Homo sapiens: one gene and its partners. The protein of the gene in region 7 purifies or fractionates together with the protein of the main gene of each other region. This does not show direct contact. Each region holds a gene or a part of one and is shown on either strand. Other genes may lie near its edges.

The links.
Region 1: the proteins of GIGYF2 (region 7) and SIPA1L1 purify together in Homo sapiens (affinity purification with mass spectrometry, with the first as the bait; one large-scale study listed by BioGRID). This does not show direct contact.
Region 2: the proteins of GIGYF2 (region 7) and EML4 fractionate together in Homo sapiens (co-fractionation; one large-scale study listed by BioGRID). This does not show direct contact.
Region 3: the proteins of GIGYF2 (region 7) and CGN purify together in Homo sapiens (affinity purification with mass spectrometry, with the first as the bait; one large-scale study listed by BioGRID). This does not show direct contact.
Region 4: the proteins of GIGYF2 (region 7) and TESK2 purify together in Homo sapiens (affinity purification with mass spectrometry, with the first as the bait; one large-scale study listed by BioGRID). This does not show direct contact.
Region 5: the proteins of GIGYF2 (region 7) and CAPRIN1 purify together in Homo sapiens (affinity purification with mass spectrometry, with the first as the bait; one study listed by BioGRID). This does not show direct contact.
Region 6: the proteins of GIGYF2 (region 7) and KIF13B purify together in Homo sapiens (affinity purification with mass spectrometry, with the first as the bait; one large-scale study listed by BioGRID). This does not show direct contact.

What each region holds. Positions count from the first base shown.
Region 1 is NC_000014.9:71,739,093-71,741,709, reverse strand, and holds the end of SIPA1L1 (signal-induced proliferation-associated 1-like protein 1), read right to left. Parts: coding exon 2,549-2,617; 3' UTR 501-2,548; downstream 1-500.
Region 2 is NC_000002.12:42,175,853-42,179,352, reverse strand, and holds part of EML4 (echinoderm microtubule-associated protein-like 4), read right to left. Parts: intron 1-3,500. UniProt on the Homo sapiens protein: Essential for the formation and stability of microtubules (MTs). Required for the organization of the mitotic spindle and for the proper attachment of kinetochores to MTs. Promotes the recruitment of NUDC to the mitotic spindle for mitotic progression.
Region 3 is NC_000001.11:151,524,887-151,528,386, reverse strand, and holds part of CGN (cingulin), read right to left. Parts: intron 2,746-3,500; coding exon 2,597-2,745; intron 1,413-2,596; coding exon 1,280-1,412; intron 557-1,279; exon of another isoform or gene 449-556; intron 1-448. UniProt on the Homo sapiens protein: Probably plays a role in the formation and regulation of the tight junction (TJ) paracellular permeability barrier.
Region 4 is NC_000001.11:45,345,774-45,348,163, forward strand, and holds part of TESK2 (dual specificity testis-specific protein kinase 2), read right to left. Parts: intron 2,228-2,390; coding exon 2,145-2,227; intron 1,921-2,144; coding exon 1,836-1,920; intron 1,290-1,835; coding exon 1,206-1,289; intron 1,007-1,205; coding exon 920-1,006; intron 222-919; coding exon 104-221; intron 1-103. UniProt on the Homo sapiens protein: Dual specificity protein kinase activity catalyzing autophosphorylation and phosphorylation of exogenous substrates on both serine/threonine and tyrosine residues. Phosphorylates cofilin at 'Ser-3'. May play an important role in spermatogenesis.
Region 5 is NC_000011.10:34,082,731-34,086,230, reverse strand, and holds part of CAPRIN1 (caprin-1), read right to left. Parts: intron 3,407-3,500; coding exon 3,354-3,406; intron 3,277-3,353; coding exon 3,190-3,276; intron 168-3,189; coding exon 12-167; intron 1-11. UniProt on the Homo sapiens protein: mRNA-binding protein that acts as a regulator of mRNAs transport, translation and/or stability, and which is involved in neurogenesis, synaptic plasticity in neurons and cell proliferation and migration in multiple cell types.
Region 6 is NC_000008.11:29,071,071-29,074,570, forward strand, and holds part of KIF13B (kinesin-like protein KIF13B), read right to left. Parts: intron 1,247-3,500; coding exon 550-1,246; intron 1-549. UniProt on the Homo sapiens protein: Involved in reorganization of the cortical cytoskeleton. Regulates axon formation by promoting the formation of extra axons. May be functionally important for the intracellular trafficking of MAGUKs and associated protein complexes.
Region 7 is NC_000002.12:232,843,831-232,847,330, reverse strand, and holds part of GIGYF2 (GRB10-interacting GYF protein 2), read right to left. Parts: intron 3,286-3,500; coding exon 3,076-3,285; intron 2,963-3,075; coding exon 2,757-2,962; intron 1,600-2,756; coding exon 1,445-1,599; intron 1-1,444. UniProt on the Homo sapiens protein: Key component of the 4EHP-GYF2 complex, a multiprotein complex that acts as a repressor of translation initiation. In the 4EHP-GYF2 complex, acts as a factor that bridges EIF4E2 to ZFP36/TTP, linking translation repression with mRNA decay.

The DNA of each region.
Region 1 (2,617 bases), on a different chromosome or scaffold from region 7:
AACGTATAAGCCCTCCGAACCATGTAGGAATCATGGTCTAAACAGACCTTTTTAGCTTGTTAATTGGAATATTTTGTGGCATCCATTCTTATGCTAGTCCAAGAACTCTGGAATCTGTAGAACTGTTGAACCAAATAAAAGGAAGAAACTCTACTGTCAGCACTCAATTAGCTGCGCCGCTGGAGAGGAACAGTGACGTGGTAGATTAAAAAAAAATTGGTTCGGTTTGACTTTGGAATGCACTGATTTTTTTTTCAGTAGATTAACTTTTCTAATTATATTTTGCACAGCCTAATATTAACAGGCATTTGTATTCCCTGGGCACACAACATCTGACATTGAGAGCTGGGAGATGCAGCCCAAAAATGTGCTGGTCTCAGAGAATAACAATGTTATGAAAAATCCATGCGTGGATAATGAAGGGGAAGCTAATTATGAAGTGCTCTGCAAATATTAAATCATAAGCAGAGAAGGCAAAATAGTAATTCTCTATCGACATGTGGACAGAGTAAAAAAGTTTATTAACATTCTGAGAAGGACAGAAATTTTCAAGAATCATCATTAGTGTTAACAAAGCTTGATGAAAAAATTCGGATGCAAGGAGGGTCAATGAGTTATTGGGTGGTCTTTCAAATAAGCAAACCTCAAGCAATAATACCAAAGTGTTTTAAAAGAGCGTTTAAAATGAATTTTATTCTTTGAATTTTACAGGTAGTCTTTAGAGGCTTCAAACAAGAACTCTGTTGCAAAACTCTAATAAATAGCTTGCCCCAAGTCCCCAAACAAAATGTAAAACAAAATGAGAACTAAACTCAGAAGGATAAGCAAGACTTCAGAATGCTTGGATGTTAGCAATATTTCTCATTTACAAAGAGATATCAGGCAATGTACAATCTCCTTCATACAAGTCAAAGAGAGAAAGAGACAGACAATTGAAATCTTCACAAAGCACTCCGAAATCTTCCTATTTCCATGATAGAAATGTCACCAGAAAAAAAAAATTCCATGGAGAAATCACAATCAAGAATGAAACTGTAGCATAAAAATCTGGTAGTGAATGTAGCAGGGAGAAGAGAGGAAAATCCATCCTGTTTCTTTCAGGGATGGAGAGAGGAAGGAATTGAGATTACTTGGGTGAGGGAACTTCCAATCAGATGCCGCTAGAGTGCTGAATGTTCCCTTAGACCAGAGTTGCCACTGAAAGGGCAGAGGGGTCGGTTTAGTGACAGTTATGAAGGCAACAAACAAAGGGGTCTCCTCAGGTCAGTCAACACTGGCCAGCCCCATGTCTCTGTGCTCTACAGCAGCCTTGGAAGAGTGACCCAGGGGCCCAAAGCAGCCTGCATCACAAGACAGCAAAAATAGCACATCAATAATTTCTGCAGCGGAATCCTTTGGATGGCCATGAAAGGATGCAGAAAATGCCGTGCTGAAATTTCACACTGGGACATGCAGGTTTCAAAAGCCCATTCTAGTATCACAGTCATTATTCCTAACAAGCAATGATTAAAATTCACAATTAAACATTCACTGTTAGCTTCTCCTAGTTACAAATACTGGTGAAGTCTTGCTCTGGAGAGAAAGATTAATTTAGAGATATGGTCATTTTCAGCAAGCTAAAAAAACCAGTTGTGCCACATTTTTATCTTTAAAAATCTTTAAAACGTATACTTTTGACCAAAATGCATTCAAAATGCAGACAGATAAGGTTTTAGTTTGGGGGAATTCTGAAATCAATTAATGTTTGGAGCCAGGAAGCTGTAAGAGAGATTGATTCCAATTTAGTGGGGCTCAATTAAGCCAAACAAAAAAGAGTCTTGCAGCACAAGTGGGACCATCTTCCTGGGGAAAGGGAGAAGCAGGAAATGACCTCACAATGCAGGACTGAGAAGGGGTGTGGCCTGCAGGCACTGTCAGAGCTGCTCTGGTTTACAGACTTGCTGTTAAATATTTAACTCCGGTCCTGCTGATCTCTGGAGGACAGGTACAGACAGCACTAGCTCATGCACGAGTCATTCAAGGGAGGTAGGCATTTTCTCAAAGCAACTCCCTCTCCAGGCATTTTAGGGAAGAAGGTAAGGAAATATCCCTCTCTACTCCCCAAACAAGTTATAAAAACATTCTTTTTCTAGGAATAATGATATTTGTTAGAATAACAAGGGAAAGCTTGGGTTACCTGAAGTTGATAAGAAAGCTGATGGGAATAGAGGCGGATGGGCCAGGGGGCGCCCTGGTCCAAGGCCCAGTTTCTTCTTAAATACATAACAGATAAAGATATTGTGCAAAAAAATAAAGACATTCACATTTTAGCAGTTAAACTTTTATTTTACTGTTTAAAATTTTTATTTACTTTTTTTGTTTTTCTTTTCTACAAAAGGCAGGTGATGATTGTTGATCTGCAACTATTGTGTTGTGCACTCCCCGAAAGGGGGCAGAGTAGGAAGCCAGGGAAGGTGCTCTGAGGATGCTTTCTATGGAGGGAATAAGGGCTGCAGGACACTCACTGGAGGGAGTGTCTGGGCCCTTCTCCTGTCCTCCTCAGCCTTCCCTAGCTCATGTCTATGGTGTTGAAGACCCATTCTGTGAACTTCTTCAGCTTGTCCGAGGCGTTCTGGGA
Region 2 (3,500 bases), about 190 Mb from region 7:
TTCATTTAGTTACCACATCTCTTAAGTCTTCTTTAGTCTGGAATGTTTCCACAGACTTTGTCTTTATAATATTAAAAAAAAAAAAAAAACCCAGCTCCCCGACGTTTTAAAAAATAGGATGTTCCCCATCTGGAGTTTAAAATTTCCTCATGATTAGATTCAGGCTATGAATTCATGGCTGAAAAACACTGTAACTGATGTGCTCTTTTCTGGGTATCACATGCAGAGACACACAAATCCATTGGTGATATTTATTTTGATCATGCACACAAGGTGTTGTCTGATTTCACCACCATATTGAGTTACTGTTTCCCCCCCTTACAAGTAATAAGCATTATATGGGGGGAAATTTAAGACCATGCAGACAACCTGCTTCTCACCAAAATATCCCCCTAGATTTAGCACCTATTGATGATTCCTGTCTAAACAAATCTTTATTATAATGGATGCAAAACAATCATATAAATTTTAAAGTTAAATAGATTTCAACTTTTGCCTACACTCCCAGATCCCTTAGGTGTAAGTGCTCAGCCCCCTCCACTTTAGAAGCGCTATAGTGCAATGGTTTGAGTGTACCAATCAGGGACAGCTTCCTGGGGAAAAAATGTATTTCAGCAAATAAGTGGGGAACCAGTCAAGACACAGACAACTCCATCAGATCAGCTTAAAAATAAAATACAGCAATATGGTAAATCCTCTTTTTTGCAGTTGTTGTTTTTGGCTCCCAGGGATCTCTCACGTGACAGGCACCACACGGGGGATACTCACCACACTACAAACAAGGAAAATCCTCTTTCTTATTTGAGACAGGGTCTCGCTGCTCGCTCTGCTGCCCAGGCTGGAGTGCAGTGGCATATCATAGCTCACTGCAGCCTCCACCTCCTGGGCTCAAGCGATCCTCTCACCTCAGCCTCTCAAGGAGCTGGGCATGCACCACCACGTTCAGCTAATTTTTGTTTGTTTTTTTTTTTTGGTAGAGACAGGGTCTCACTATGTTGCCCAGACTGGTCTTGAACTCCAGGCCTCAAGTGATATTCCTACCCTGGCCTCCCAAAGTGCTAGGATTATAGGTGTGAGCTATACCACCTGGCCTGAAAATTCTCTTTCAAAGTAAAGAATTGATTTGCAAGGTAAACATACCCTAGCCCTACCAATTTTATAAAATCACTTCTTTACATACTGAGTTTGCCTGAATTACACTGATTCTACAACTAATAAATATCTTTCTGCTGCTGCTGCTGTTAAACATATTCTAATTATATTCAGATTCTAAAAACTTGTCAAAGACATAGCCCGCAATGATTACTTCTGATTGTTCATCCACCTTTTCATGTATGTCAACCTTTCCACCTATTCTCTCAAAGATAGGGATTAGCCACTAAAAATGTATCTTTCATCTGATTGTGACCAACAGAAATTTTACACTGAAATCTAAGACAAATATATGTAACTGAAATTAAATGTTCCATGAAGCAATATCACACGAAGTACTGATATTTTACATTATCTCTTCCTCTTCTCCTCATTTTTCTAATGTTGGTCCTGACCACGACTAAACTGATTTCAAAAACCATTAACAGGTCATGCACATGACTTGTACTTGAAAATACCCTAGAATCTGGCACAGAATTCTTTATCAGATTCCCAATAAAGTCTAGAACATTTCACTTATTTCAGGTGAAATGAGAAATAAGAACATAATGAGTTTTTGTTTGTCTGTTTGCTTGTTTGAGACGGGGTCTCGCTGTGTCACCCAGGTTGGAGCCCAGTAGTGTGATCTGCGCTCACTGCAACCTCCACCTCCCAGGCTCCAGCAATCCTCCCACCTCAGCCTCTCGAGTATCTGGGACCACAGGCGTGCACCACCATGCCTGGCTAATTTTTTTGTACTTTTGGTAGAGACGGGTTCTCACCATGTTGCCCAGGCTGGTCTCAAACTCCTGAGCTCAAGTGAGCCGCCCGCCTCAGCCTCCCAAACTGTTGGGATTACAGGCGTGAGCCATATTTAATTTTCAAAGTAATTTTACAATTTTTTATTCTGAGATTGTGTATTACAATCTTTTGGTCTTCAAATGTCATTTCTTTAAAAAAAAAAAGAGGTATGAAAGTGAAGGTTGTTAAGTTGTCAACTATATACTAGTCCCTAATTTATTTCCTCCACATTTTACTGGATCATGAAATCTCCACTGCAAGACTTCAAAGACACATGAGAGTTTCAGCCTTCAATAAAACCTTCAATACAGCCTTCAAGAGGTTTATAATTTGGCTTAGGCATGGTACCTGCAATCCCCCAGCACTCTGGGAGGCCTCAGCGGGCAGATCACTTGAGGTCAGGAGTTTGAGACAGGCCTGGCCAACATGGTGAAACCCGTCTCTACTAAAAATACAAAAATTAGCTGGGTGTGGTGGCATACACCTGTAACACCACCTAGTCGGAAGGCTGAGGCAGGAGAATTCCTTGAACCCAGGAGGCAGAGGTTGCAGTGAGCTGAGATCATACCACTGCACTCCAGCCTGGGCGACAAAGCAAAACTCTGTCTCATAAAAAAATAAATAAATAAAAATAAAACCAATTTGGCTCAGGGAAATAAGACATAACAATTGTAAGATCTGTAATAATTACTTTCACCTTATAACTATTGGAATAAACATTCTGCAATAAGTACCCCAAGAGTGGTCCTATCAAGTGTTCACGGAAGAATACTTTGGGCTGGGAATGAAAAGAAGTAAACATTTTTAGAAAGGAAATAATATTTGAGTTGAGCCTTGAAGGGTACTGAGAATAGTCATCAGGATGAAAAGATGAAAATGTGAGGAATAAGAAATAGGTCATTTTGGTCAGAACATGGTAAGACAGTAGAAAGAGATGACAGAGGACTTGAGAAGATGTTAAGAGGCTAAGATGTTTGAATGTAGTCATTAAAGCAATGAAGCAATCTGAGAGGGTGAATAGCACAATCAAAGCATGGCTTTAGGAAGATAAATCTGAGGGCCCTGTACAAAATAAACTGGACAGGTGGAGATTCTCGACGCCATGCAATAATCCACGCATCGAATAATAAGTACCTGAACTATAGCGGTGGAAAAGAAAAGGGATGAGAAAAGGTGACAAGAATTGACAAGTCTTAGAAGAGATTCTAATGCCCTAGGCAAAAATGGCAAAGAATCAAAACATGATTCTGAAATTTCAAACTGGGTGATACAGTCAGTGGGAAATAAGGAAAAGAAGCTGATTCAGGAGAGAAGTTCAGATTCAGGTATGTACCTGAGGGTTATAAAGAGTCAGTATTGGAGTAGAGAAAAGACCACTGGACTCCATCAGAAAAATCTGAGTTCAAGTGGGAAAAAAAAAAAAAGGTTAGGATCCAACGAAAAAAACAGAATGCAAAATTATGTCTGCAGTATGATTTTAACTATTAAAAAACTAAGCATAGGAAAAGACTAAGAACAAGTACATTAACATGTTAACATCAGCTGCATACAAATGGGCTAAAGATAAT
Region 3 (3,500 bases), on a different chromosome or scaffold from region 7:
GCATGTAAAATATAACTCCATAAAAAAAAAAATACCATGAAGGGAGAGTACATGAAGGTATGGCTAGTAAGGCTGGTTGTTTAAAAAAAATACAGTGTGAGGCTGGGTGCGGTGGCTCACGCCTGTAATCCCGGCACTTTGGGAGGCCAAGGAGGGCGGATCACAAGGTCAGGAGATCAAGACCAACCTGGTTAACACGGTGAAACCATGTTTCACGGTGAAACACTGAGTACGTGTATTTTTTTTGTAAAAATACAAAAAAAATTAGCCGGGCGTGGTGGTGGGCGCCTGTAGTCCCAGCAACTCGGGAGGCTGAGGCAGGAGAACGGCGTGAACCCAGGAGGCGGAGCTTGCAGTGAGCCGAGATCACGCCACTGCATTCCACCCTGGGTGACAGAGTGAGACTCCGTCTCAAAAAAAAAAAAAAAAAAAAAAATATATATATATATATAGTGTGGCCATGGGATCTCCAACTGCATGCAAGAGCAACCTGGAGAGACTTTGACAGAACAGGTCAGCACAATCCCTGCAGCTGCCACTTGTCTTTCGTGTGTGTGTGTGTGTGTGTGTGTGTGTGTATAAAACCAAAATGTGTGACACAATAAATGCTGGCACAGCTCTGATTTCTTTTAAAAAGAAAATTAAAATAGGAGTTCTGGTTCTAATTATTAGCTATTAGCTACTTCTGAAATTCAGAAAGTACCATAATTAGGCTAAAGGGTTATATAATATGTAGTGAATCTTCAATGTAATACCATATACTCTGCTATTTTTCTTTTGCTAATTAGTTTTGTTACATTAGTAACCAGGCCATGCCAACACAAGTATTCCAGTCCATGTGATGATATTTCTCAATGTAAATTAATAAACTGAAATTCTAATGGTAAACATTTTTTCATAAATGTAGTTAGAGACCCCTCTGAAAGACAAAGCAGCTTTTGCCATGCTGACCAAATTAGATTTCTGAGCCTGCAAAAATCATCCTGGAGTTTCACAAATCCACCTAAATGCTGCTACCCATGACGTCTCTTGGGAGTCGGCCAGCAGCCTCTGGCTATACCCCAACCTGGGTTCTGAGAGCACTTTCCATTAGAAACCTCTATGCTCAATGAGGAGACTGGTGCTGCTGTGCTGGAAAGAGATCAAGCTGAGCAGGCAGGATGAGGCCTGGAAACCAAGCACACAGGAGATAGCCCCACTAGCAAGAAGGCCCTCATGGAGAGGTAAGGCAGGTGTTCATCACCCCTACCTACCATTCTGCCCCCCAATTCCCAAATACCTTCTTGAGCACCTCAACCTGGCGAGTATCTCCAGCACTAGCTCGGGCCTGCTCTAATTCCCTCTGCAAGACCTCTATCTTCTCTCCAAGCTCCTCTTCCATCTCCTCCTTCTCCATTCGCAGCTGCAGGAGTCTGAGCCAGGCAAGGTGAAATAAAGGGGAAAGGGAACAGAGTAAGGCCACATGCCTGGGGGAGGTTAGCATGACAATAAAAGCCACCTCTCTGGAGGCCAACACGCTGGGCACCAACTCTCAAGAGGAAGGAAGGTGAACGTGGAAAAGAGCAGTTTGAGAAATGGGAGAGTAAGAGCATACCATAGATAGAAAGGAAGTGGGCCAGGCATGGTGGCTCATGCCTGTAATCCCAGCAATTTGGGAGGCCAAGGCAGATGGATCACTTGAGCCCAGGAGTTCAAGACCAGCCTGGGCAACATAATGAAACCCCGTCTCTACAAAAAATACAAAAATTAGCCAAGTGTGGTGGTGCATGCCTATAGTCCCACCTATTCGGGAGGCTGAGGTGGGAGGATGGCTTGAGCCCAGGAGGTGGAGGTTGCAGTGAGCCCAGACTGTGCCACTGCACTCCAGCCTGGGCAACAGAGCAAGACCCTGTCTCAAAAAAAAGAAGAAAGGGACTGGGTGCAGTGGCTCACGCCTGTAATCCCAGCGTTTTGGGGGGCCGAGGTGGGAGGATCACGAAGTCAGGAGTTCAAGACCAGCCTGGCCAATATGGTGAAACCCCGTCTCTACTAAAAATACAAAAAACCCAGGCCTAGTGGCAGGCGCCTATAATCCCAGCTACTCGGGAGGCTGAGGCAGGAGAATCGCTTGAACCCAGGAGGCGGAGGCTGCAGTGAGCCAAGACTGCACCACTGCACTCTAGCCTGGGCAACAGAGTGTGACTCCATCTCAAAAAAAAAAAAAAAGGAGAAAGGGGGCCAGGCGCAGCGGCTCACACCCGTAATCCCAGTGCTTTGGGAGGCAAGGTGGACAGATCACCTGAGGTCAGGAGTTCGAGACTGGCCTGGCCAACATGGTAAAACCTCATCTCTACTAAAAATACAAAAATTAGCTGGGCGTAGTGGCATGCGCCTGTAATCCCAGCTACTTGGGAGGCTGAGGCAGGAGAATCTGTTCAACTCAGGAGGCAGAGGTTGCAGTGAGCCAAGATCGTGCCATGACACTCCAGCCTGGGAAACAAGAGCGAAACTCTGTCCCAAAAAATAAATTAAAATTAAAATTAAAATTAAAAATTAAAAAAAAGAAAGGAAGTGGCATATGAATCATGGGTATTTCTGAGAGGGCCAATGTCCTTACTCCTGCTTGGTGGCTCTAAGATCCTCCTTGTTCTTCTGGAACATACTCTGCCAATGCCCTGTCTCCTCTGAAGTCTCCTCCAGCTCCCTCTGCAGCCCTCGCACAAGGGCTGACATCTTCTGCCTCTCGGCCTCCAGCACTGCATGGTCCTAGAGAAGGGGAGAGTTGGACACCAGAAGGCTCAGAGGGAAGAGGTCACTTCAAATCAAAGTGTGAGTGTGTACAAGGAAAGGCTTAGACCCAGAGGGCACCATGCCAGGTGCACCCCCTGACACTCTTGTGGTACCTGGTACAATGCTAGCAGAGATTCTCTCCTCAAGTCACAGTCCACCCCTCTATCATCTACAGGAAACCTCCCCAGTTATTTCCCCTTGGGACTTTTTATTTTTAGGGGGACAGAGTCTCGCTGTGTTGCCCAGGGTGAAGTGCAATGGCATGATCTCGGCTCACTGCAACCTCCGCTTCCTTGGTTCAAGCGATTCTCCTGCCTTAGCCTCCCAAGTAGCTAGGACTACAAGTACGCATCACTACACCCAGCTAAGTTTTTGTATTTTTGGCAGAGATGGGGTTTCTCCATGTTACCCAGGCTGGTCTCTAACTTCCTGAGCTCAAGCAGTCCACCCGCCTCAGCCTCCCAAAGTGCTGGGATTACATGCATGAGCTACCGCACCCAGTCCCCCTTGGGACTTTTGTCACACAACCTCAAGGTACTTCTGGCCTGTACTCCCTCCCTCTGCCCCTATAGTTTTCCTGCCCAAGGTTTTCAGCAGATCTCACTGTGTCCTTTAGGAGGAGAGGGGGAGTTCCCAGTTGCAACCATGAAAAGTCCAAAAGTCCAAGATCCCAAGGCAGCCTTGTTCTCCAGCAGTGCCCTCCTCTCTCAGACCCTGCTCTTGTCACATGC
Region 4 (2,390 bases), on a different chromosome or scaffold from region 7:
TCTGGACCTGGGATCCTGGCAATCACAACCCTAAGAGGAGAAGGCCCCACATCCGAATTTCCTCCCTTAGGGTTAGGTTGGGCTCCCTGGTCTAATCTCTTACCCCTGGCTGTGGGCTGCAGCTTCCTATCCCTCTCCTGCTCTTCTTCCTGTAGGCGGCTCAGAATTTCCTCCAGGGTCTTCCCAATCTCCACAAAAGATGGGCGCAGTTTGGGATCCATCTGTAGGTATCCACAACAGCCATGAGCTCTGCCCTCCATCTCCCACCCCAAAGATGGCATTTGAGTCTATTTCTGGCATCTTTGAAGATTCAGATGTGCAGCTGAGAGACCTTTTCTAAAGGCCCCAGACAATGAAGGTGATCCCTACAGTTCAGGTCAGGGAAAACACTACTGTCTACTACCCTCCCTGTCTTAGTGTTTGTCTTATCACCTTGTCACAGAACCTTCCAAAAGTATGCTCATATTAGTTTATTCTGTTCTTGAGTTCTGCTCCTAATGTGTTTCTGGGAGGTATCTGAACAAAGCCCACCTACCCCTTGATCCTAACAGGTAAGGTCCAGCCCCAGAGCTACATACATGAAGGCCAAGAAGAGCCTTTCTCATATGCCTCAGGACCAGTTGGATCCACAGTCCAACAATAAAACCGGACCAGAGTTCCATCAACACCTAACGCAAGGAGTGATGGGTCTACCCTACAGGTTGAGGACCAGATAATACAAAACAACTTCTTTCTTTCCTTTGTCCAGAGCTCTGAATAGGTTAGCTGCCAGAGGGAGGAGGAGGAGGTGTGGTTGCTGTCACTACAGTGAAAATGAGGTCCCTCATGAAGCTAATTAGCAGCCTCTCTGTACAGTCCTAACCAGGTGAAAAGGGTTCAGCCAGCCCCTGATGAAAGGCAGAGGGAGAAAGACACTCACGTTACAGCAGTTGAAAGTAAGTTGCAGAAAATCTGGGGGACAGTCTCCCACCATGTGCTGGAAAGCATCATAGTCCAGCCCGAAATTCTGTGGATGGGTATGGAAAGCATAGGTAGACAGTTCATTAATCCCCCCACCCATCCTAGCCTGCTCAGTAGAAGTGGTTGGGAGCTGCCCCTGACAACCAGCAACAGAGAGTTCCAGCAAGTCCATCCCAGGGACAGAACAGTTCCATTGCTTCAAACTAGCCCCATCAGTGGCAATGATCCCCATGCTTGCAGCTCACCTCTGTGCGGGGAAGATAGTCCGGATCGGCCTGGATGCGGGCGATGATCTCGCAGAGGATGATACCATAAGAGAACACATCTGCCTGGTGGGTAGTCGGACTTTGGTTTCCCTCTTAATGGGTTGAGGGGTAGGGTATCTGCCCCTGCCCCTGCCTCCCCTGCACCCCACCATCTAACAGCCCAGGCCTGGGCCATATTGCCCATACTTCATCCCAGTCAGTCACTGGGCAGCTGCCAGGTACCACCACTGCTCTTGGTAGGAACATCTTGGACACTCTGCTAAGAGTGGATTCTAGGGAGAATCAGCCGAGCGCGATGGCTCATGCCTGTAATCCCAGCACTTCAAGAGGCCGAGGTGGGCAGATCACTTCAGGTCAGGAGTCTGAGACCAGCCTGGCCAATATGGTGAAACCCTGTCTCTACTAAAAATAAAAAAATTAGCTGGGCGTGGTGGTGCATGCCTGTAATTCCAGCTACTTGGGAAGCTGAGGCAGGAGAATAGCTTGAACTCGGGAGGCAGTAAGCCGAGATCGTGCCACTGCATTCCAGCCTGAGCAACATAGTGAGACCATCTCAAAAAAAAGAAAAAGAAAAAAGGAGAATCAGGCCTTGAGATCCTCCAAACTTACCTTTTCATTATAGGGCTCATCTCGGAGAACCTCAGGTGCCATCCAGAATGGGGAACCCACCACGGCCAGCTTCTCACTCCCCATGCTGTGGGGTGAGATTATACAGAAAATGAGCTTGCCAATGGCTGGTGCAATGGAATCTTTTGACCATTCCTCCACCTCAAGGATGGGTACAGACGAGGACTAAACAAATTTAGGGAGCTGAGGTTGAGCTGTGACCAAGTCCTGGCCTCTGGGGAGGAGGCTAGAATTTTCCCTTAGCTTCAGCCCCCTGTCCCTTGGACCCCAGCATCCAGTAGGGCTACACACCTGACATCGGGGATCTTCTCAGCCAGGCCAAAGTCAGCTACCACTGCAGAGTAACCATTCTCATCCCTCTTTATCAGGCAGTTCTAGGGTTCCCAGGAAGGAAGAGAAAATAATGTGGCTCAGAAGCGGGGATCAGCCATAGAGTTACCACCCATTCCCCCCTTCCTATCACAGGGCACCTTGTCCTCTGCTCCTTGGTGAACCGCACTCAAGCTGACCCCACTGGTCAGGTCAGGGGCTCTAAGA
Region 5 (3,500 bases), on a different chromosome or scaffold from region 7:
AATGAACATACCTGTATGAAATTATAGGGACCCTGCATTTGTGCCATAAGGTCTTGTACTCGCTGTCTTCTCACAAGGGGATCTGCCTGAGCCACTGGAGTCAAAGAGTGGGGCTCTGGTACTGAAGGGGATGCAGCCTGAGGTTGCTGCTGGAGTGAATTTACCACCTAAGGTAGAAAAAAAAGGATTAGAAGGAATAGGAGAGCAAAAAAGCTCCACTCACTACCACCATGATGGGTCCCCCACACTACATAAACCATCTATACTATAAACAGAACGGGCTTTAATGCAGTTACCCAAATGAATTACATTTATGCCAAATTTAACATTCTGAAAAATGTCATCACTTCTACAGTGTTTCAGTTCCATAAGACCACTATGTAGCATTTCATGTTGATTTACTTATTTATTTATTTTTTTTTCTTTCGAGACGGAATCTAGCTCTGTAACCCAGGCTGGACAGCAGTGGCGGGATCTCGACTCACTGCAACATCCATCTCCCGGGTTCAAGCAATTCTCCTGCCTCAGCCTCTCAGGTAGCTGGGATTACAGGCACCCATCAACACACCCGGCTAATTTTTGTATTTTTAGCGGAGACAGGGTTTCACACCATATTGGCCAGGCTGGTCTTGAACTCCTGACCTTGTGACCCACCCGCCTTGGCATCCCAAGTGCTGGGAATACAGGCATGAGCCACCATGCCCAGCCTCAGATTTATTTTATAAGCTGCTTTCAAAGAAAGATTACCTGTGTTTACATCCTAAAATAATGTATTTTTCTTAAAACTGTTATGCCTTCTATAGTAACTGGATTTATATATCTATGTCAAATATATATCTATCTCACAACCTGGTACATAGCACTCAAGAAATGTTAGCTATTATTATCATCAAGATTTGGGTTTTTCCCATTCCATTTTCTCAGCCAACACCATAGGATCAAGCTTTACCAACTCATCTAAACTGCTACAGAAGCCAAAGCTCACTCTATTAGCCTTTTCCCAGCTCTAATAATTTCCTCTGCTTATTGTTCTTAGTAATTCCCTGCTCTGCAAGGAAATCCTATCTTTTATTACATCAAATTTATATTATTCTGTCTGGATTTAAAACTGGACAAGTCATACTGGTTGAAACTAGGCAAAATCAGCTATTCCCTTTATAAACAACACAGATAAAAATCACTACCAAAGCGAAACCAACAATCTGTGTAATACCAACTTCAGGATGCTCCAAAAATTCGTGGAATCTCATGTGGATAGCCTTTAGAAAGGCCCACCTACTAGATACAAAGAACAAACCACACTGGCACAGTGGCAAGTAGTATGCTCTTCTCAAATAAAATCCAAAAAATACTTAACTACAAAGCACTGTATACTGCTTCCCAACTTCTTCCTACTATGTCAATATTTACCTTGCATTCTATGTTCAATAAAACAAATATGTTAATAGTTCATTTCTACTTCTACATCCATGCTATACATCCCTATTACCTGGCTCCCCTAAAAACATACATCCCATCGACTTAGTCAAGGCTCAATGGGTTTGTACACCTCATATATACAGCTGACATTTGAACAACATGGGCTTGAACTGCACAGGTTCACTTATCCTCCAGTACTCTTGAGATGTGAAACACCTGTATATATGTGGGTCCCGCAGATACATGGCACAACTTGAGTATGAGCAGACTTCGGTGTGTGGGAGTGTCCTAAAACCAATGCCCCTGGTATAACAAGGAACAACTGTAAATCACCTCTACTAATCTTTTTGATTGATTTCTCTTCTAATCCTCCTATAACATTTCTGAACTGCATTCTTTAATTCAGCAAATATACACTATTTTGTTGGGACTTCCTGAGCAGTATTTTCATCCCAAGTACCTTTCTGGGGTAAGTGCCTACTCTCTTTACCTTACCAATGGGACATTTTGGTGCTCCAACAGAGGGATGAAGTTGCTGGCACAATTATAACATCTATGGGCCAGGCGCAGTGGCTCATGACTGTAATCCCAGCACTTTGGGAGGCTGAAACGGGCAGATCACTTGAGGTCAGGAATTCAAGACGAGCCTGGCCAAAATGGTGAAACCCCATCTCTACTGGGCAAGAGTGAGACTCTCAAAAAAAAAAAACTTTGCAATCTCTTTGGAAAATGGGTTTTTTTCTTCTTGAGACAGAGTCTCTGTCAACCAGGTTGGAATGCAGTGGCACGATCTCAGCTCACTACAACTTCTGTCTCCCCAGTTCAAGTGATTCTCGTACCTCAGCCTCCCAAGTAGCTGGGATTACAGGCATGCACCACCATGCCCAGGTTTTTGTTTGTTTTTGAAGTAGAGACTGGGTTTCACCATGCTGGCCAGGCTGGTCTCTAACTCTTGGCCTCATGTGATCCACCTGCCTCAGCCCCACAAAGTGCTGGGGTTACAGGCATGAACCACCGTGCCCGGCCAAGAGAATGGTCTTGATATAAGAATAACATATTAAAAGGAAAAGCATATTACCCTCAGCTTACAGCTATTTTCCTGCACCTTGGGGGTGTAAAGAAAGACATCTAAAAGAAGATCAAAAGGAAGGCCAGGACCAGTTGGTAAGGTTTTTAGACTGTATCTTACAGGTAACAAGGCATCACTGAGAGCCTCAAGTACAAGTAACTTAAAGCTAACTTTTCCAATAATTAAGTTGTGACAATGAATAGGATGGTCTGGAGGCAGTCAGAGAGGAGTAATATGAAGAGAGTCACTGAACTAGACATGAGGACCCGAAAAAAATCATCATTATCAGTTGAGAGACAGCATTAGAAAACGCTAGAGGAAGTCTACAGCCTGGTGACCAAACAGCATTAGGGTAAAGGAGGAGTGCAAGATGATACCCCAAAACACAGCTATCAGTGTGGGAGCCCAGATTTTTACAGAGCAACCTAATTTCAGTAAGAGACAAATCATGGTAACAGATTAATCCACAGATAACTTTGTATAAAATAATTTTTTTAGATTGGTTCAGCAAAGCAGGGATCCTATTAAACATCCACAGGGATAAACATTCATTTTTTGGAAGTAACAGTCTGGTGTAATGAGTCTGTTATTATAATAAATGTACTAATAATGCAAAAAACAATCTTAATTTGTTCTCAGTAGAGATAAAAATTACTAACTGAAGACAAAGACAACAACTTTGCAATACAGAGAACTCTTACCTCAACCGTTTCAACTGTCCACTCATCTACCTGCTCCTTTTCACCACTGGTGAACTGTGTTTCTGCCATGAACTGTCTATTTACATACTGCAAAGCAAAGTAAATGTTTGAGACATTTGTTTGAAAGGCAGCAAAGTAAAGGCAGCATTAAATTAAAATCATACCTCTGTTGATTCAACTTCACTTTGCTCAGTGTACTCTTCTGCTGGCTCAGGTTCTAAGAGGTTAAAAAATGGTGCAAAACAAAAGGATTTTTAGGTCAGTGATACTACTCTACTCTGTGTGATATTGGTAGATACACGTCATTATGC
Region 6 (3,500 bases), on a different chromosome or scaffold from region 7:
AGGTGCAGGCCAGCCACTAAGGCACAACCGGCCCGCCTCGTGCGGGAACAGACCCTTCTCCATCTGGACCCAGGCCTGGGCTGGGTGGCGGGAGAATGGTTCTTTTGCTGAATCTATGAAATGGAAACTGGCAAAACTGCCAAATGAGGGCGAGTCAGAGGCCAGCGAGATGTGTCCGGATGGGGTGAGGAAGAGCCTCCTGGAACGGCAAAGGGGAGATGCTCTAAGGTGAAGGATGAGAAAGCAGAGCCCAGGGAGTGCAGAGGGCAGGGGAGACCGGAACAAAAGCGGGAACAGCCATGGCGATGGGGGGATGGGTACAGGATCTTTGTAGCCAAAATCATCAGGAATTTTCCATGTCGTCTCCAGGGACTAGCCCTGCCCCCAGCCTCACCCCTGCAGGCCCAGCCGCTCCCGCAGCTTCAGCCAAGCCGCTGCCTCCCGGCCCCTCCCTCTCCTGCCCGGACCCTGTCCCCTCCCAGGCCGGCCACGTTCCTGCTTCCCCAGACCCCCGGCACCACCCTGGAGCCCGGAGTGCCCGGTACCCACCTGAGGGCAGGTCGAGCTCCACGCCGACCCACGTGCCCTCTTGGAAGTCGGCAGGCCCCACGTATCTCACCACGCCCGTTTTGTGGGCGCCCACGGTGACGAACTCGCCCTCTCGGAGCCACTCCGGGACCTCGTCAGCTTCCTCGGAATCAGAGGCCAGGGCCTGTCCCCCGGCGCCCGGGGCCGGCGCATTCCCCTCGGCCCCCGGGGAGCAGCCGGGGTCCCCAGCCAGCATGCGCGAGAAGGAGCGCAACTCCGAGGCCCGCACCCTCCGGACGCGGAACGGGGAGCCGGGCGCCGGGGCCTCGAGGTCGGGGCGCTCCCGACCGGGGCTCACGAGCTGCTGGGGGCCAGGGGGCTCCTCGGCGGGGACGGCCGTGGGCGGTGGGGGGTGGCTGATGGGCGCCTCGGGCTCGGCCTCAGGGGCGGTGGGCATGGACCCCGGCGGGGCCGCAGCGTCCAGGCCGGGGCCCAGGGCGTCCGACAGGGTCGCGGTGGAGACGCTGTGGGAGAAGTACCCGCTAGAGGCTTCACTCAGGGGGCTGGGGGGCCCGTCCTGTGCCTCCGGAGCCGGGGTGACCGCTGTGACAGCTATGACAGGCGGTGGGGAAGGCACTTTGGCAGGTTTGTCGCAGATCTTCAAGGCCGGGGCCCCCATCGTCTGCACCAGCACGTCAGGGCCCATCTCCGGCTGAGCCTGCAGCAGGACGGGGAAGCAGGGGCTGAGAACAGAAAACTTTCCAACACGAACCAAGCAGGCAGCTTTGACTTGGAAAAGAGCATGAGGCCAGGGGCAGTGGCTCAGCCTGTAACCCCAGTGCTTATGGAGGGCAAGACGGAAGATCGCTTGAGCCCAGGAGTTCAAGAACAGCCTGGGCAACATAGTGAGACCCCGTTTCGACAAAATAAATAAATAAAGAACATGGCTGGGACCCGGCCAGGCCCTGGTTCCCACACTGGTTCTGCCACTTAGGGCTGCATGGCCCTGGCTTCCAAAGTGATAAAGGTTGAGGGGCCGACAGTGCACCCCGCAGGCCCTGTGCTGTGTGCCCAGGCTCAAGAGCACTGACCATGGCCACAGCCCCTGCCCCATCTACTTTTTACCTTTCATACAAAATAGAATCCAGGGCCTGCCATGCAGGGCCAGCACGCTACAAAGACCAAGGCCCCTCGCCACAGAGGGCAGCACACAGTAGGTGCACGCTAAAACCCTGCTAGGGCTAGTTAGCTTTCCTCCCATGGAGACAAAGCCCCTGCCCACCCCCAACCTCACGAAGAGACTGAGTCACTAAAGAGACCAGAAGAGCACTTTTTTGTCCGGCAAAACCTAAACAATGATCTCATCGGAGGACCGGAACACACTCAGCACAGCCTGGCCAGCTCAGGCACCAACAAGGAGCCACGGGCCTGCAGCCTGGCTGGGCATCCCGAGCAAGGCAGCAGGGGGACGAGGAGGGGTACGAGGAGGGGTATGAGGAGGGGGACGAGGAGGGGGACGAGGAGGGGGACGAGGAGGGGGACGAGGAGGGGGACGAGGAGGGGGATGAGGAGGGGACAAAGGCTCCCTGTGGGCCGTGGCCCTTTCTCTCCAAGGCTGCTGCTCTGGCTGCTATGGAAAGCAGGTGCCATGTCAGGGGCTGGGGGGGCCTCGGACCCTGGAGAGAGGCCAGGAAGCAGCCCCCAGGGAGAAGCCACCAAGTGAGGCCAGCAGCTCTCCTCATGTCGGTCACTCTGTCTGAGTCACCCAGGCAGAGGACACACACACACTCAAAGCCCACATCTCATGGGGGAGAGCAGCCACCGCTTGCCCAAATCCTATTGTTTCTGGGGCATTCTTTCATCTATAACTGAAGCCATGTGAAGAGGCTGCCAGATCATCTTTCTATTCCTATTCACAGTGACCGAAGAAAAGGAGAAGGCAGGAACAGGGAATGAGATTGGTGGGGTGGAGAGCACTGCTATCCAGAAGAAATATGTTTTCCGATATTTATGGAAAAATTATTTATATTACAGGAATGGTCATTTTCCATTTGAAATACGGGATTTATTTGAATGGGGAAGCGGCTGAGATCTATACGTCTCTTACAGTTACTTGGCTTACCTCAGCAGCTTGATAAATCATGCGTTTTCCCAGGAACTGTCCTTTATATTCCCGTTTCCAGGGGCCCTCTTTTCCCCACCAACCACACTTTCAGGGTAGGAAATTAATGGCACCTCTTGAGATTAACAGCCCATTTTTGTGGTGAATCTCTAGGCTGCAAAATTTACTCAATCCAATAGATCAATAACTGTCACCAGCATAAATACTCTAAAAGATTAGGCAATCCTTCAATCATTCTTCCTTTGCACATTGTCCATGTTTTATTTATTCTCTTCTATTTTAGTTTTAATATCACTGACCCAACAGGGGAGAATACGCAAAACTATGAGAGCCGGGAATCTGAACGGTAACCAGGGTCCTGAAATGGCTTCTGTTCCCCGCCCCCACCCCGGGTAAGGCCAGCCACTGTCACTTCCCCAGGCCAGGCTCTCCCAGGATGAGGCCAGCTGCATGCCTCAGATTTGCAAGTATCATCATCCCATTGGCTTCCATGTAAGACACTGGCTTGGGCTGGGCTGGAAGGATCATGGCATTATTCTACAGCAGGCCTCCAGAGGGGAAAGCCCTCATCCAAGGCTGCACTAAGTGAAAAGGCAGGCACTGGGGGCAGAGCTGCAGAGTCAACAAAGCAGGGAGCAGGATGGTGGAAAGCACAGACTGGCACTCCAGGCCCCATCCCCACTTGACTGGAGTTGATTTGTGAGTTGAAACCCAGATGCCATCTATGGATTATACCCTTGCCACTGAAGAAGACATTTCTGGAGACTTCTGCAAAAGCCCAAGCTTGGAAAACCACCATGATGAGCTACAGAAGCTGCTGCCTTCACTGGCAAGGGGCTTGCTCTGACCA
Region 7 (3,500 bases):
AGAAGATAAGGGTAACAATGAAATAATGAAAGAGAACTTACAAAAATCAGTTTCCATTTTTAATGTATCTTTATACCTAATCAAACATTAATGACAGACACTTGGTAAGTATGCAGCAATTGTGTTTAAATATTCTTTTATCTACCCTATAGAAATGAAAAAAACACTATAATCACAACATCCATACCACATGTTTAATTTCACTGAATGTTATACTGACTGAAACAGTTACTTGACTAAGGCTGAAGTAATTTGGGGATTCATTCTTTCCTTAAGAACCCTCAAATTCAATCAGTATTTATTAACTCCTATGATATGTGTCAGGCACTACAACATACACTAAAGAAAACAGCTATATCTTCCTGGAACTTTCAATCCACTGAGATTTTTTAGAGAGAAATCAAATGGAAAATGTAAGCAGTGTGTGGTATAGGAGAAAAGCATGAGTATCAGAGTTAGACAAACATGGGTTTAAAACCTGACTCTGAAATTTGCTGGCTGTGTGACCTTGATGAGTTATTTAACCATTCTGAGCCTCTGTTTCCTAATTTATAAAATGGGGATAATATCACCTATCTTGTAAAGGTATCTTTAAAAATCACTGCTAATCAAATAACTGGGATGCTGCATGTTAACTCCAAGAGAGTGCCTAGCACACATGGTAGGTGCTTAATGCATGGCAGCCATTACTGTTATTTAAAATTGTTTTCTCTGTAGGCTTTTAAACCATTAGATATTGTTACACTGCTGCAAAGGAACTCTTTAATTCCTTTACTGCTATTTTTCACAGTTTCTTGGCTTTAGACAGGGTATCAGAGGTGGATTAATTCAATTCAGCCTATTAGTTAGGGGAATCCTGACATGTTGACCAGTCTCTCTTCAAATATTCAGGGATGGGAGACAGTTCTGTTTGTAAACAGCTAACCATGAGCAAGTTTTTCTCTAAACTGTGCCAAAGCCTTTTCACTTCTGCACATTGGTCCTAGTTTTATCTTACACAAAATAAGTGTACTTGCTTTATCACAATTCCCATTCCCTCCCCCAAAGGTAGAAAGGGAATGATGTCACATCACTTCAGCCATCACTTGTCCAGGTTGACCTTTGTCCCCAGCATGAGAGTTACTTTTTTTAACTTGACATAGCTGGCAATGTTCCCCATAAAATGAACAGTATGGAACTAAGACCTCCTCTGTCCTGTGTATCATTAAGGCAGTCTAAGATGGCATTTACTTTTTGACAACCACCAATAATCTATTTGAGTTTAGTATTACTGGACTTTTCTCACAAGTAATACTATTAAAGAGTCAAGTTCCTATGGCAGGTGCAGCAGTTGACCTCCTTAGATTTCATCTTTTGACTTTTGGCCCACTGTTCAAATTTGCCAGCCTCTCTGTGGGTCCTGCTCTGTCATTCCACATGCCGGGTTTCCCTCCCCAATTCTTACCATCCAAGTTATTTGCCGTATTAAGGGCATGAAGCATCTGTTCACACCACTGCGTAAATCCATCTTGGGCTTTATTTACTCCCTGAAAGAGCTTCAGCAACTTTTCTTCTTCTTCTACTTTCTTATTCTGCCGGTTAGACACACCTACAGATTTACTAAAGCAAAACAATAGGGTGATATTATATTCCCAGAAACTGTTACTATATGATTATAGTACAACACCATAAATAATGTCTTGGCAATACTGGATGGATGCCCAGTAAATAATCCAATGCTTGGCTCCAAAAAAGAAAAAAATTCAAATATTTGGATTGGATATACCCTTAAAATCTAGCCTCAGTTAATATATCCTAATTTGTGGATACAGGGGTTCTACTTAGAAAAAATGATGAAATTCTTCCTACGTGTCCTTAGGTAAGTTGTTTAATTTTACTAAGCCTCAGTCTCCTCATCTGTAAAACGGTACTAACAACTTTTTTGGGTTATCATAAGTAATAAAGATGTTCTATGAAAAGGCCTACAGCACAGTGCCTGGCAAAGATGCTCAATAAACTAACAGAAATTTATTGTTCTATTCATAATATGTTAGGCCCTAAATCAAGAAGAAACAATCTGACAACACTACCATTTATTAAGTAGTTACTATGTGCCAGGCACTTACTACTTATCATGTATTCATTTAATCTTTACAATTACATGCATAAAGTTGTTATTATTATCTTCATTTTACCGATGAGGGAACTGAGGCCCAAAGAGGTTCCCTCTTGCCCAAGGTCACACAGCTAATAAGTGGTAGTGCTGGGATTTGAGTTCATGTATTTAACACTAAAACCCATGCTCGTTCAACAACACTGTATATTGAAGAAAGAAAGATGAAGATGAAAATGTAACTAACTTATAAAAATAAATAGGTTTAAGGTCATTACAGAGGTATTTTATAATACTCATATTAATAGCATAAATTACTTAAAAATACAAATATAGGAAAAATGCTAAGGTATCTAGAGAATACCTTGGAGAAATGTTCAACAACACAACAAAAACATTATACTATTCCTAATATTTATTAAGTGGTTACCATGTGCTAGGCGATAGAATAAGTGCTCAGCAGGAGCCCCAAGAAATAATACGAATGTGTTTCTATGGGGAAGAAAGCAATCACCATAATTATGACTGCATGTGCTTGAACACAGATGAAAACGGTAAGCAAAAACTCAATAACTACCTTTTCCTGCCCACCCAACATCCCACTTCCTCCATCCCCACCTCCCAACCAACCAAGGTGCATAGGTGTGGTCATTTTGAGCCCTACCTGAGACTGGCGTTGTTTTTATTTTTATTTGTTGAATTCCTAGGTCCCACCTCTTTCACTGCATCATCCCAGAATCCCATGTTGGAGTTTTTAGTGTCAGCATTACTCCAAATACTACTGACTAGGTCAGATGCCCACTGGTTAGGAGGACCAGTATTTATAGAGCCCCAAACAGAATTCCCAATGCTGGTGTGCAGGTTGGAATGCTGTTAAAGAAAAAGAGAAAAATGATTATCGTGAATCATGTTAAAAAGATAAGAAGACAGTCAGAAAAGATAATACTAGTCCATACAACGACAGCTTAGGAAAATGCACACACCGTATTGTTACGAGCTCTGTTTGGTTGCTGGTGTTGCTGCTGCTGCTGCTGCTGCTTTTGCATTTGCCTGGCCTCTTCCTGCTGGATCTCCAGAAGAGATTTCGTGGTACCTGAAGGTTTGCTGACATTCCCCCAACCTGAGAGTTTCTGCTGTTGCTGTTGCTGCTGCTGCTGAAGAGCTTTCATCAACTCCCTCTGCTGGCGCCTTTGCTGTTGCATAAAAACAGAAGCTAGCTGAGGATTCCTGTTTTTAGATAATAGTTATAAATATCCAGTATACTAAATGGAATGTAAATACACAGTAGCTACATAAAATTAACTTGATGGGATTAAATTCTGCTGTTGCAAATAAAAATGTAAATCGCTAACAGTATTAAAAAGGAGAATAAAAACATGAAATGCAAAATTACTTCTTTTTTTATTGT